Linked DNA regions of Homo sapiens. The protein of the gene in region 2 interacts with the protein of the main gene of each other region in a pairwise test. Each region holds a gene or a part of one and is shown on either strand. Other genes may lie near its edges.

Evidence for each region.
Region 1: the proteins of VWC2 (region 2) and NTM interact in binary tests that used the Homo sapiens proteins (3 or more experiments, as listed by UniProt).
Region 3: the proteins of VWC2 (region 2) and GNE interact in binary tests that used the Homo sapiens proteins (3 or more experiments, as listed by UniProt).

Annotation. Positions count from the first base shown.
Region 1 is NC_000011.10:131,368,492-131,372,243, reverse strand, and holds the start of NTM (neurotrimin isoform 9 precursor), read right to left. Parts: upstream 1,630-3,752; 5' UTR 1,438-1,629; coding exon 1,356-1,437; intron 1-1,355.
Region 2 is NC_000007.14:49,909,505-49,913,256, reverse strand, and holds part of VWC2 (brorin precursor), read right to left. Parts: intron 1,224-3,752; coding exon 1,072-1,223; 3' UTR 1-1,071. UniProt on the Homo sapiens protein: BMP antagonist which may play a role in neural development. Promotes cell adhesion.
Region 3 is NC_000009.12:36,223,801-36,227,552, forward strand, and holds part of GNE (bifunctional UDP-N-acetylglucosamine 2-epimerase/N-acetylmannosamine kinase), read right to left. Parts: intron 3,659-3,752; coding exon 3,448-3,658; intron 1-3,447. UniProt on the Homo sapiens protein: Bifunctional enzyme that possesses both UDP-N-acetylglucosamine 2-epimerase and N-acetylmannosamine kinase activities, and serves as the initiator of the biosynthetic pathway leading to the production of N-acetylneuraminic acid (NeuAc), a critical precursor in the synthesis of sialic acids.

The DNA.
Region 1 (3,752 bases), on a different chromosome or scaffold from region 2:
ATCCCTCCTGTCCCCACCCCTTGCCTTCTTCATCGAGCCCCAGTCAAGGGTGTACACATTTGATCCTTCCAGCCTGGTCTCTCTGCCCACCTTACGTGGATCCACACTGCAGCCACTGCAACCTATGTCAAGAGGACAGCAGCAATCCCTAAATCCTAACCTCGGAGAAGAGCCAGCAGGACTACAGCTCAGGACTCAGTCCAGATCAGGAGAACTCCATATTGCAGGGGGAGAAGAGGGCGAGGGGGTGGGACTCCCCATCGTTTTTCACCGGGTCAGAGGGAACTTTCCTCTGGGAATACAACTGCATAGGACTGAGCCTCACCTCCCAAGAGAGGGCTCCTCCTCCCGGAGCCCTGCTGGGCCACCCTGGGAAAGTTTCTCAGCTTGTCTCGATCCTTACGAGTTTTAGCTGTGTTTAATATAAAAGAGGCAAACTAGTTACCCCAAAGGACAGGGCAGGTGGGAGCAAGAAGATTAGTGGATAATTCTGTTGCTGGAACGAACAGACGTGAGAGCCGGGATGGGGTGTGGGGAGGCACGGTGCAGCAAATGGACTCAAGGTGGAGGCCGATTCCAAATGCACAGAACACAGCACTGGGGACATCAAAGCTTGCACTCAACTGCAGCCCCCAGGGCTCCCGGCTCAGCCGATAAATAAACAGAAAATTAGCATTCGACTCTTATTGCCTCTCTCCCTTCAACTTCGAAAAGCTTTTTAGAATTTCAGAGCCCCGGCTCCCCTCGCTTCCACACCTCCGACCCCAGCCACAAACACACCCCCGAACACATTTAAAACTAATACAGTTGTCCCCCACTGCTGCAAATTGACTCATCCCTTGCAGCTGGATCGCTGACCAGAACCTCACAGGAAGCACCTGATTCTTTCTAGCCTGCATTTTCCCCTTTGCTCCTTTTAAAAGCTTTGCAAGTTCGCTGGCCGATATTTAAAGTTTCCTCTTGTAATTTCTTCCCAGTCGCATAAGCAACACATTAGCAACCCTGTTGCCCTCCGAATCTGTCATTTCCCCCTGCTTACATGTGTGCTCCGTTGTGTATGTGTGCAAGAATGTGCATGAAGCCAGGGAGCCTTGCACACAAGCACAGTCCTAACAGGAGCACCAAACACATTTTACTTATGCACATACATATTCCCCCATTCCGGTAGCAGCCAGAATCAAATCAATATTCTCACAGCCTAGTCGGGAGAATGAAGTCCCAGCCATGCTGTCTAAACGCTCTCTCCTCCACCTGCAAACAGCGCAGCACAGCCGACTCGGGGAGTCTGCAAATCTTATAAAGCACACTGTACAATTCCTGGGTCTACCGAAGGCAAATCAATAGCAAGCTCTTACCTTGGAAGAGACACAGAGCAGCCAGCCCCGTGAAGATTGCCCAAGAGATAGAATTGTGCATTTTTGGCTGGATGGTTTTCATGATTTTTTTTCTTCTTCTTTTTCTTCTTTTTTGTCAGGTTCGGTTTTTTTCTTTCTTTCTTTCCTGATAGATTGTGTTGCTCTCAAGCTTGTGCAAGGAGATTTAAATCCACTGTTTTGCTGAAGGACACAACAAGAAAGCCGAGGGTGTGAGAGAGTATGACTTCTCCGTAATTATCTCCACTCATACTCTGGCACTGAGACACATTGTACAATCTGGCCCTGGACAGCCCTCCTACAAGCTGCAATCATTGGTTCTAATCCAAGGATTGACAGAGCTACAACACACGCGCGCGGGCACACACACACACACACACGCACACACACTCTCAGGAATCATTTACTGGGCAAATCAGGCTAGCTGATTAAAGAGACAGGAGCCTGGAGAGATAGAATGATAAATGCCACTTTGCCCCTTCTATATTACTTTCATTTTTTAAACTGACAGTCTCTGAGTCTTCTGAGTATCAGAAAATCCCTTTCCCCCTGGCATTCCCTGGCCTCCTGAACTCAGATTCCCTTTGCACTGGAAAAATCCCATAGCCAGCCATGGCTTATGGGAAATTTTAAAGGGACATTTTCATGCTCAGTGAAACTTGTAAAGATGAGGCAATTTTCATTTGTTGGTACCTATTTTCCCCTCCAATGGAAATATCATTCAGTGACAGCTTTTTTTTCTCTCTTTCATCAACCTTTCTACTTAGTTGCTTTGAAAATAGTAAATAACTTTCTATTTTCTCCTCCTGTCACTTCTGTTTCAGAACATCTATGTTACTCCTCTTTTTCATTCACTTTTTAGAAGTCAATTTCCTAAATTCATCCATGTGTATATGATACAATGGAAAGGTACAAAGTACCTGGTATTTGAGAAGAAGCTCTATAGTCTGAAGATGGAGAACCTTCTTCAAAAGAAAACAAAGCAGGAGTTTATTCCCCATGACTTGGTCAATCCACATCCACTAAAGCAATCATAGAAGCATCTGTGATTTAAACTGCAGCGAGAAAGATTCAGGGTAGACATGCGGAGGGGCTTTCTGAGTGTAAACTTTGTGTAGTTCCTCAGACAGTTGAAGACATTAACCTCCTTGGTGATAGGAAAGAATAAAAACCGAACAGAAATAATCTAATGGACATAAATGATTTCTTAAGAGGTCTAATTCTAGGGCCTGGAAGTTTATTCTAATCTTTGGCTTCCCCTTATGAGAAGCAAGTTAGAGGATGTGAACAAAAAATCTAGAAAATGTAGCTCCTGGCTGGGCACTGTGGCTCACGCCTGTAATCCCACAACTTTGGGAGGCCAAGGAAGGCCAGTAGCCTGAGCTCAGGAATTCGAGACCAGCCTGGGCAACATGGTGAAACCCTATCTCTACTAAAAAATTCCTTAAAAATATCTGGGTTTGGTGGTGCGCACCCGTGGTTCCAGCCACTTGGGTGGCTGAGGCAGGAGAATTGCTTGAGCCTGGGAGGCGGAGATCACAGTAAGCCAAGATGGCGCCACTACAATCCAGTCTGGGTGACAGAGCCAGCCCCTGTCTCAAGAAAAAAAAAAAAAAAAAAGAAAAGAAAAAGAAAATGTAGTTTCTCACAGAACCTTCCTTAGCTAATTCTGACACATTCATACCCCTACTATGCCTTGACACACATTTTAAAAATATTCTTCTAGAACTCCACCGCTAATTATTATACTTCCTTGTAACCCCATAAAAATGTTCATGTATTTTCAAACTGCATAGAAGAAAAGTACTCATTGTCTGTTTGTATTTTAGTGTACAGAGGTGAAATGAAAACATCACTGCCATTTTGCACATGTCTAAGACGTACGATTTACCTTGGCTTTTTTCTTTTTTCTTTCTTTTTTGTTTTTGTTTTTGACAGACTCTTGCCCCGTCACCCAGGTTGGAGTGCAGTGGTGCAATCACAGCTCACCGCAACTTTGAACTCCTGGGCTCAAGGAACCCTCCTGCCTTACCCACTATGCCCAGCTATTTTTTTTTTTTTTTTAATTTTCTACAACATAGTAGAGATGAAGTCTCACTATGTTGCTCAGGCTGGTTTCAAACTCCTTGCCTCAAGCAGTCCTTCCAGCCTTGGCCTCCCACAAGTTTACCTTGTGTTGTGTATGAATAGGGACAACACTGCCTGGAATGTGGGATCTTGTGACCTTGAGAGGAAGGGGCCCTGGGACCTCAAGATCTGGGGACCTCAAGATCCTTCTCATAGTTCTGCACAACTAAGGGACCTCAGGCAGGTCCTTTCACCTCTGTGAACCTTGGCTTCTTGTCTATAAAATTGTAGAACTGGAATAATTTATTATAC
Region 2 (3,752 bases):
CTTCAGCTTTGTTTTAACAAAATAACTGCTTCCTCACTCTGCTTGTGAAGGGTGGCTAATTCAAGGTTATCAGTCAAGATTTTACTGTGTAGTTTATGGAGGATAGATGACTCAAGTCTGATGACAAATATGATTCCACTGAACTGACAGCTGAGTTATCTGTAGCACATTTAGATTTCAGGTATATAAACTTGTTTAGGAGTTTGATTTTCCTTAACTATCCTAGGAGAATCGAAGGACTCCTCCCCTATTTTGTTGTCTGCTTCAGCTTGATGGAACAGTAATGCAAATTTTCCAGCCTACTTTATTCCTCAGTTTAGGGAATGAATTAAAGTTATCCTTAGAAGAGAAAATAATGTAAATAAGAATGAAATATATGTATGTGCTTACCTATGGTGTACAATACAGGAGCTTAGGGGAAAGAACTGAGAAAGTGTGAGTTAGTGATCTTTACACCTGCATTTCACAAGTGACTGAGAATGAAGCAGATAAAAGCCATATATTATTATAAAAAGGAAATATATTTATGTGAAGTAGACATCAACATTAGAGATATGTCTGTAATTAAATAGAATTTAAACAGGGTTTCAGTGGAAATTGGTCCTAATATCTTATGATCCATTCATGCGTGACTCTGCCCTGTGAAAATGTGCAGGGGGAACATTCCTGGGTGATGGAATCAGAACTGAAAAAGATATGCAGGTACACGGTGAGGACGGTTGACAACACAGCATTTTTAATCTGCATCTATAGAAAACACTTATATAAGCTCTCTAATGGAGGGATTATAGAAATACATTTGATATATAATAGTGTACTTTTGTGTACTTACTGTGAAAATAGCACATTTATTTAGAGAAGGATTTTATGCCCAAAGTTCTTGTTGATGTTTTGAAATATATCCATTTCCTTCTGTTGTAGTAACTGTTATCAAGAAAAGGAAAAGTACCAACAATTTTCCATTATTCCTCATCAAAAGTCTTCTTTGACTGATAGTTCCCAGAGTCATCTAGAATGTTCACATCAGTAAAATGTTCTAGAAAAAGTCAGAGTTTGTGTTCTGGGAAGCGTCTACATTTGCCTGCATTCATGTCTCGTGCACATGGCCTGCCGCTCGATTCTCCATGTGCCTTCCTCATAAGTACAGTGGCATATGGTGCACTCGTCAGTCTTCACTTCTCTGCCAGCAGGGATCACCGCGGTTTCTGCAAAGCAGTTTGGACCTGAAATGCAGAAAAATGTTTTATACTATATGTGTGCATAAATATATAATATATATAATTAGGTATTAAGCATTACAGTATATATATGTGTGTGTGTGTGTGTGTGTGTGCGTGTATTTGTTTGTTTGTTTGTTTTTGAGACAGAGTCTTGCTCTATCACCCAGGCTGGAGTGCAGTGGCACGATCTCGGCTCACTGCAACTTCTGCCTCCCGGATTCAGGCAATTCTCCTGCCTCAGCCTTTCAAGTAGCTAGGATTACAGGGGCATGCCACTATACCCAGCTAGTTTTTGTAATTTTTGTAGAAATGGGGTTTAACAATGTTGGCCAGGCTGGTCTTGAACTCCTGACTTCAAGTGATCCACCCACCTTGGCTTCCCAAAGTGCTCAGATTACAGGCATGAGCCACTGCACCCGGCCAATGGTACATATTTTATTCAGTTTCTTTTATGAAGGACAGTGGCAAAGTTATAATTTCAGTAATAATGAAATACTCTACTTTTGTTCTGAAATGAAACCAATGCCATTTAATTTTTTTTTTTTTTTTTTTTTTTGAGACAGAGTCTTGCTCTGTCACCAGGCTGGAGTGCAGTGGCACGATCTCGGCTCACTGCAACCTCTGCCTCCGGGGTTCAAGCGATTCTCCTGCCGCAGCCTCCAGAGTAGCTGGGACTATAGGGGCGTGCCACCACACCCAGCTAATTTTTGTATTTTTAGTAGAGATTGGGTTTCACCATGTTGGCCAGGATGGTCTCGATCTCTTGACCTCGTGATCTGCCCGCCTTGGCCTCCCAAAGTGCTGGGATTACAGGTGTAAGCCACCGCTCCCAGCCCATTTAAAATTTTTATAAGAGACAACACTGTGACTTTCATTAACTTTTCCATTTTGGGGCTAAAATCTGCAGCCATTTCGTTTAATTAATTCTAAATACTCACAGAAAAAGCATAACTAAGACCTTCAAAGAACCAGTCCTCTTCAGGACACTTTCAGCAGAGATATCTTAAAACAAGCAAACTGCTTGAAGTGACATAAATTCAGTATACCTTCCAGGCCTCCGAGGGCAGCTTTTCAAACTTTCCCATACATTACAATGGCCTGGAGGGCTGTTGAAAACACTGTTTGCAGAGTTTGTGATTCACTAGGTTTGGGTTGGGGCCTGAGAATTTGCTTTGATAAGTTCTCAGGTGATGTGGATGCTGCTTGTTTGGGGATACACTTTGAGAAGCACCATCTTAGTGTGTTGCAGGAGTCTATCTTTCACAGTTTTCCATGAGAATTGAGGATCTCTGTAATTCTCAATCAATTCTATATCAGCTATAATATATCAGCCAACAAATGTGTCACATCTGCACTTTATGTTAAGATCAAGGACATGGAGAGATGAGTATCAGAAAGAGTTCCAACGTTAGTTAAAACACATTTTTTTTTAAAAGATTAATGGCTTTGTGTTATGGTTCATACCTGTAGATCTCATTCAGCTATGAGCAACTGCTCTACCTCTATACCTCCCTCCAAAATTCAAACACTGGTAATTACTGCATCCTAAATAAAGGCCCTCAACTTTTATCTTCAACAGTTTGCAAAATTCTCATTCTCCTCCCTTCTTTGCTTCTAATATCTTTGATAATGTGCTCACAACCAAAATGTGTTTAATTATAGCGTGTGAAGTCATCAAAGAGATGAAAAAGGTCCATCTGCAAAATTTTAAAAAATAAATTAATCCAGCAAACTCCAGAATAACAACTGGCCTTTGAATAATTCTAAGTACAATAGCTTATGTTCTGTGGTGGTGGTTTTCGAGTTCGCCCAGGAGGTGGAGGGCCCCCGCTTCTGGATGCCCAGCTCTGCACATGGCTGCCTGCTTGCATGTGCCCCCTTCTCCCTCCCTGAACTCTGTTTTCTTTTTTGTTTGTTTTGTGTTTGAGACAGGGTATTGCTCTGTCACCCAGGCTGGAGTGCAGTGGCATGATCATGGCTCACTGTAGCTGCTTCAATCTCCTGGGCTCAAGGGACCCTCCCACCTTAGCCTCCTGAGTAGCTCTGATCAGAGGAGCACACCACCACACCTGAGTAACTTAAAAAAAAAAATCTTTGGAGATATGAGGTCTTTCTATGTTGCCCAGGCTGGTCTCAAACTCCTGGGCTCAAGAGATCCTCCCGCCTTGACCTCCCAAAGTGCTGGGATTACAGGAATGAGTTGCCGCACCCAGCCCTGGACTTTCTTTTCTTCTTGTCCCCTGTTCAGACACTGCCCTAAGGTTCTGCCCTTGAACTCTTTCTCTTTCAGAGAACCCAACAATCATTCATCTGGCAATGACTCCCAAATTTTAGTTCCAATTGTACTTTCTCGCTTGAGCTCCAGTCTTGTGTTTCCAGGGGGCCAGTATCTGCATTACCTGAAAACACCAGATTTATGATGTCTGAGCCCAGTGTCACATATCCATTAGCTTTGGTGAATTGTAAGACTTTAAATTCAAGACCCCTCCCCACCCAGTGGCCCCAAAAGGATATTCTAGTCCTCTCTGCACT
Region 3 (3,752 bases), on a different chromosome or scaffold from region 2:
GAGCGCTATGGCGCGATCTCAGCTCACTGCAACCTCCACCTCCCAGGTTCAGGCGATTCTCCTTCCTCAGCTTCCCAGGTAGCTGGGATTACAGGTGCCTGCCACCACGCCCGGCTAATTTTTGTATTTTTAGTAGAGATGGGGTTTCACCATGCTGCCCAGGCTGGTCTCAAACTCCTGACCTCAAGCAATCCGCCTGCCTCGGCCTCCCAAAGTGCTGGGATTACAGGCGTGAGCCACTGCCCCCGGCCGGGCCCCTTTCTTAAGCTTAAGTTCAATGTTCGCTAATTTGAGCCTAGTTCATTAAAAGACCATAGTTTACTCTTTCAGGTTGACAAAACTTTCTTGCTTACTGAGGTGACCGGGCATAGTGGCTCACGCCTGTAATCCCGGCACTTTGGGAGGCCAAGGCGGGAGAATCGCTTGGGCCCAGGAGTTTAAAACCAGCCTGGGAGGTACAGTGAGACCTCCTCTCTACAAAAAATTAGCCAGGCATGTTGGCACATGCCTGTAGTCCCAACTACTTGGGAGGCTAAGCTGGGAGGATTTCTTGAGCCTGGGAAGTTCAGGCTGCGGTGAGCTGAGATCACGCCACTGCACTCCAGCCTGGGCAACAGAGTGAGACCCTTTCTCAAAAACAAAAACAAAAAAACACTGAGGCAACTAAGTAGCTGAGCTTTAATCATCTCCTGTAACTGAATTCAGTGATGGTCTGGATACTCTATTTCCTTAGGGTAAATTTCCATCCTGGCTGGCAGAAATACCACATTGTTTAAATTATTATATGGCCGGCCGTGGTGGCTCACGCCTGTAATCCCAGCACTTTGAGAGGCCGAGGCAGGTAGATCACTTTGACCTCAGGAGTTCAAGACCAGCCTGCGCAATAAGAGGAAATCCCATCTCTATAAAAAATACAAAAATTAGCTGGGCGTGGTGGCACACGCCTGTAGTCTCAGCTACTTGAGAGGCTGAGGCTGGAGAATCGCTTGAACCCAGGAAGCAGAGGTTGCAGTAAGCCGAGATCATACCACTGCACTCCAGTCTGGGCGACAGAGTGAAACCCTGTCTCAAAAAAATAAAACACATTACTGTGCTTTTTGATATGTTTTAATACCAAACAGGGATAGTCCCTCCTGATTACTTGTCTTTATCTTTTTTCTTTGCACAACTGACTTTTGTACTTTTAATGTTAAACTTTGAGAAATTCCACTGTGATTTACAATAATTTTACTAAATGTAAAACAAATACCATTGAAATATTTACTAGATTATGTTGATCTTATAAATCAAATTGGGAAAACACTGACATCTTAAAAATAATCAGCACTTCCATCCAGGGCATTTTTTTCAAGACTTTATGTCTTACAGTAAAGTTTTAGAATTTTCTTTATATAGATTACATCGTTCCTGGTTTCAGTTATTCTTAGGAGTTTTTGTTGTTGTTCTGAATAAGATCTCTCTTTCCATTTATATTATTTTGTTATTAGTGGATTTTTATATCTCAAATATAGGGTTAGAGCTGTCACTAGGATTGTCATTAAAAATAAATCTAGGTCAGGCACGGTCGCTCACACCTGTAATCCCAGCACTTTGGGAGGTCGAGGCTGGCAGATCCCTTGAGCCCAGGAGTTCAAGACCAGCCTGGGCAACATGGTGAACCACTGTCTCTACAAAAAATACAAAAATTAGCCAGGCATGCTGGCATAAGCCTGTAGTCCCATCTACTCAGGAGGCTGAAGCACAAAAATCACTTGAGCCCGGGAGGCAGAGGTTGCAGTGAGCCGAGATCACGCCACTGCACTCCAGCCTGGGCGACAGAGCAAGACTCAGTCTCAAAAAACAAAAATACATCTAGAGCTGGGCACAGTGGCATGTGCCTGTGGTCCTAGCTATTATACTTGGGAGGCTGAGGCAGAGGACCATTTAAGCCCAGGACCTTGAGTCCAGTCTGGGAAACATAGGAAGACCTTGTCTCTAAAAAAAAATTTTTTTAAATTAAGAGAATAAAAAATCTAGAGTAGTGCTTCTCAATCTTCGCTGTGCATCAGAATCACCTGGACAGCTTTTAACGAAGAGCGATGCCTGGCCCCCATCCCCAGAGACTCTAATTTAACCAGTCCAGGGTGGGAGCCAAGCATTTTTTTGTCTATTAATAATGTTTTTTGTTTTACCCTATCAATAATCTCCATTTTTGCTATTCCTTCCTTTATTCCCTCATAACTTCCAAAATTATGTGAGATAATGCTGCACAAAACATCTTTCTTTTCTTCTTGATTTCAATGGGAATGCCTCTAGAATTTCACCATTGAAAAAGATGTTGGCCTTTCATATGGAATAAATCATCTTTCTGTTAAGAAACTATTCTTCTATTAGTTTTTGTTTTGTTTTTTGAGATGGAGTCTCACTCTGTTGCCCAGGCTGGAGTGCAGTGGTGCGATCTTGGCTCACTGTAATCTCCACCTCCTGGGTTCAAGCGATTCTCCTGCCTCAGCCTCCCAAGTAGCTGGGATTACAGGTGCCTGCCACCATGCCCAGCTAATTTTTTTTTTTTTTTTGTATTTTTAGTAGAAACAGGGTTTCACCATGTTGTCCAAGCTGGTCTGAAACTCCTGACCTTAAGTGATCTGCCCACCTGGACTTCCCAAAGTGCTGGGATTACAGGCGTAAGCCACTGCATCCAGCCTTCTATTAGTTTTTAAAAGAGTATTTATAAGGGAGGCCTCTTGGCTTTTCTTGAGAAAATTATGTTTTGTTTTGCTTTCCTTATTTGACCTAATGGTATTAATAAATTTCCTACAACTTTACATTTAAAATCTTTGCTATTTCTCATCGTCTCTGGAAGCTTTATACACTCACACTATTTCAAACCAAGATTTTTCTAGTAGGTTTATTCTAAGTCATTAGAGATCACTTTAACATGAACAGTTTGTTATTTTTATGAATGTTCTCTCACCTGTCAACACTGGGTGATGGTTTGGTTAACAGATTGAAGGTATGCTGTACTCAATAAAGAGCAGAACTGTAAAAATGCAAAATGGAAAATCCACACAACTGATCACATTCTAGAGAAGAGGCAGCTCCCTTCACCATTTGCTGATACCCCTCACCTGGGCAGTGATAGTAATCAGCATACTCCACACTCCAAGCTGTTACCAAGTATAGAATTTCAGGTCTTTTGGGTGGCAAAAGCCCGATCTGATGCCTAAAGGGGTCTTCCCACTGTCAAGTCTACCGTCTTGGATTCCCAAAGAATTTACTTCTTTGAAATGTTAATGATCAGTAAAATAGTGAGACAAACATTGTAAAGGATCCACAAGTCAATACTATCAGCAAATGATTACAAGCTCTTGTGTATGTTTCTAGTCTTACCTTCCAACTATATATACTTAAAAAAAAAATCAATCGCTCATATGGGATATAAAGTTAGGAGTTTAGGAGTTATTTTACCTTCATGCTGACTATTGCAACTCGGAGGTTCGTCCCGCCAAGATCAACGGCCAAGGCACTTAGAGTTTCAAGAATATGGTCAATATCTTGAGAGATATTCTCCTTCACAGGAGGAAAGCAGAATTTCTTTTGCAGTGGCTCTTGAAGATCGATAGATTTGAGAAACTTCAAAATCCTTGGAACAGCATTTCCATCCCCATATATCTTTGAACTGCAATATACAAAAAGTCAATTAAATTATATGCTTCTGCCATACATGTTAAGTGGTAGTGAGGGTATAATGTAATGGAAACTGAGACTTCAGG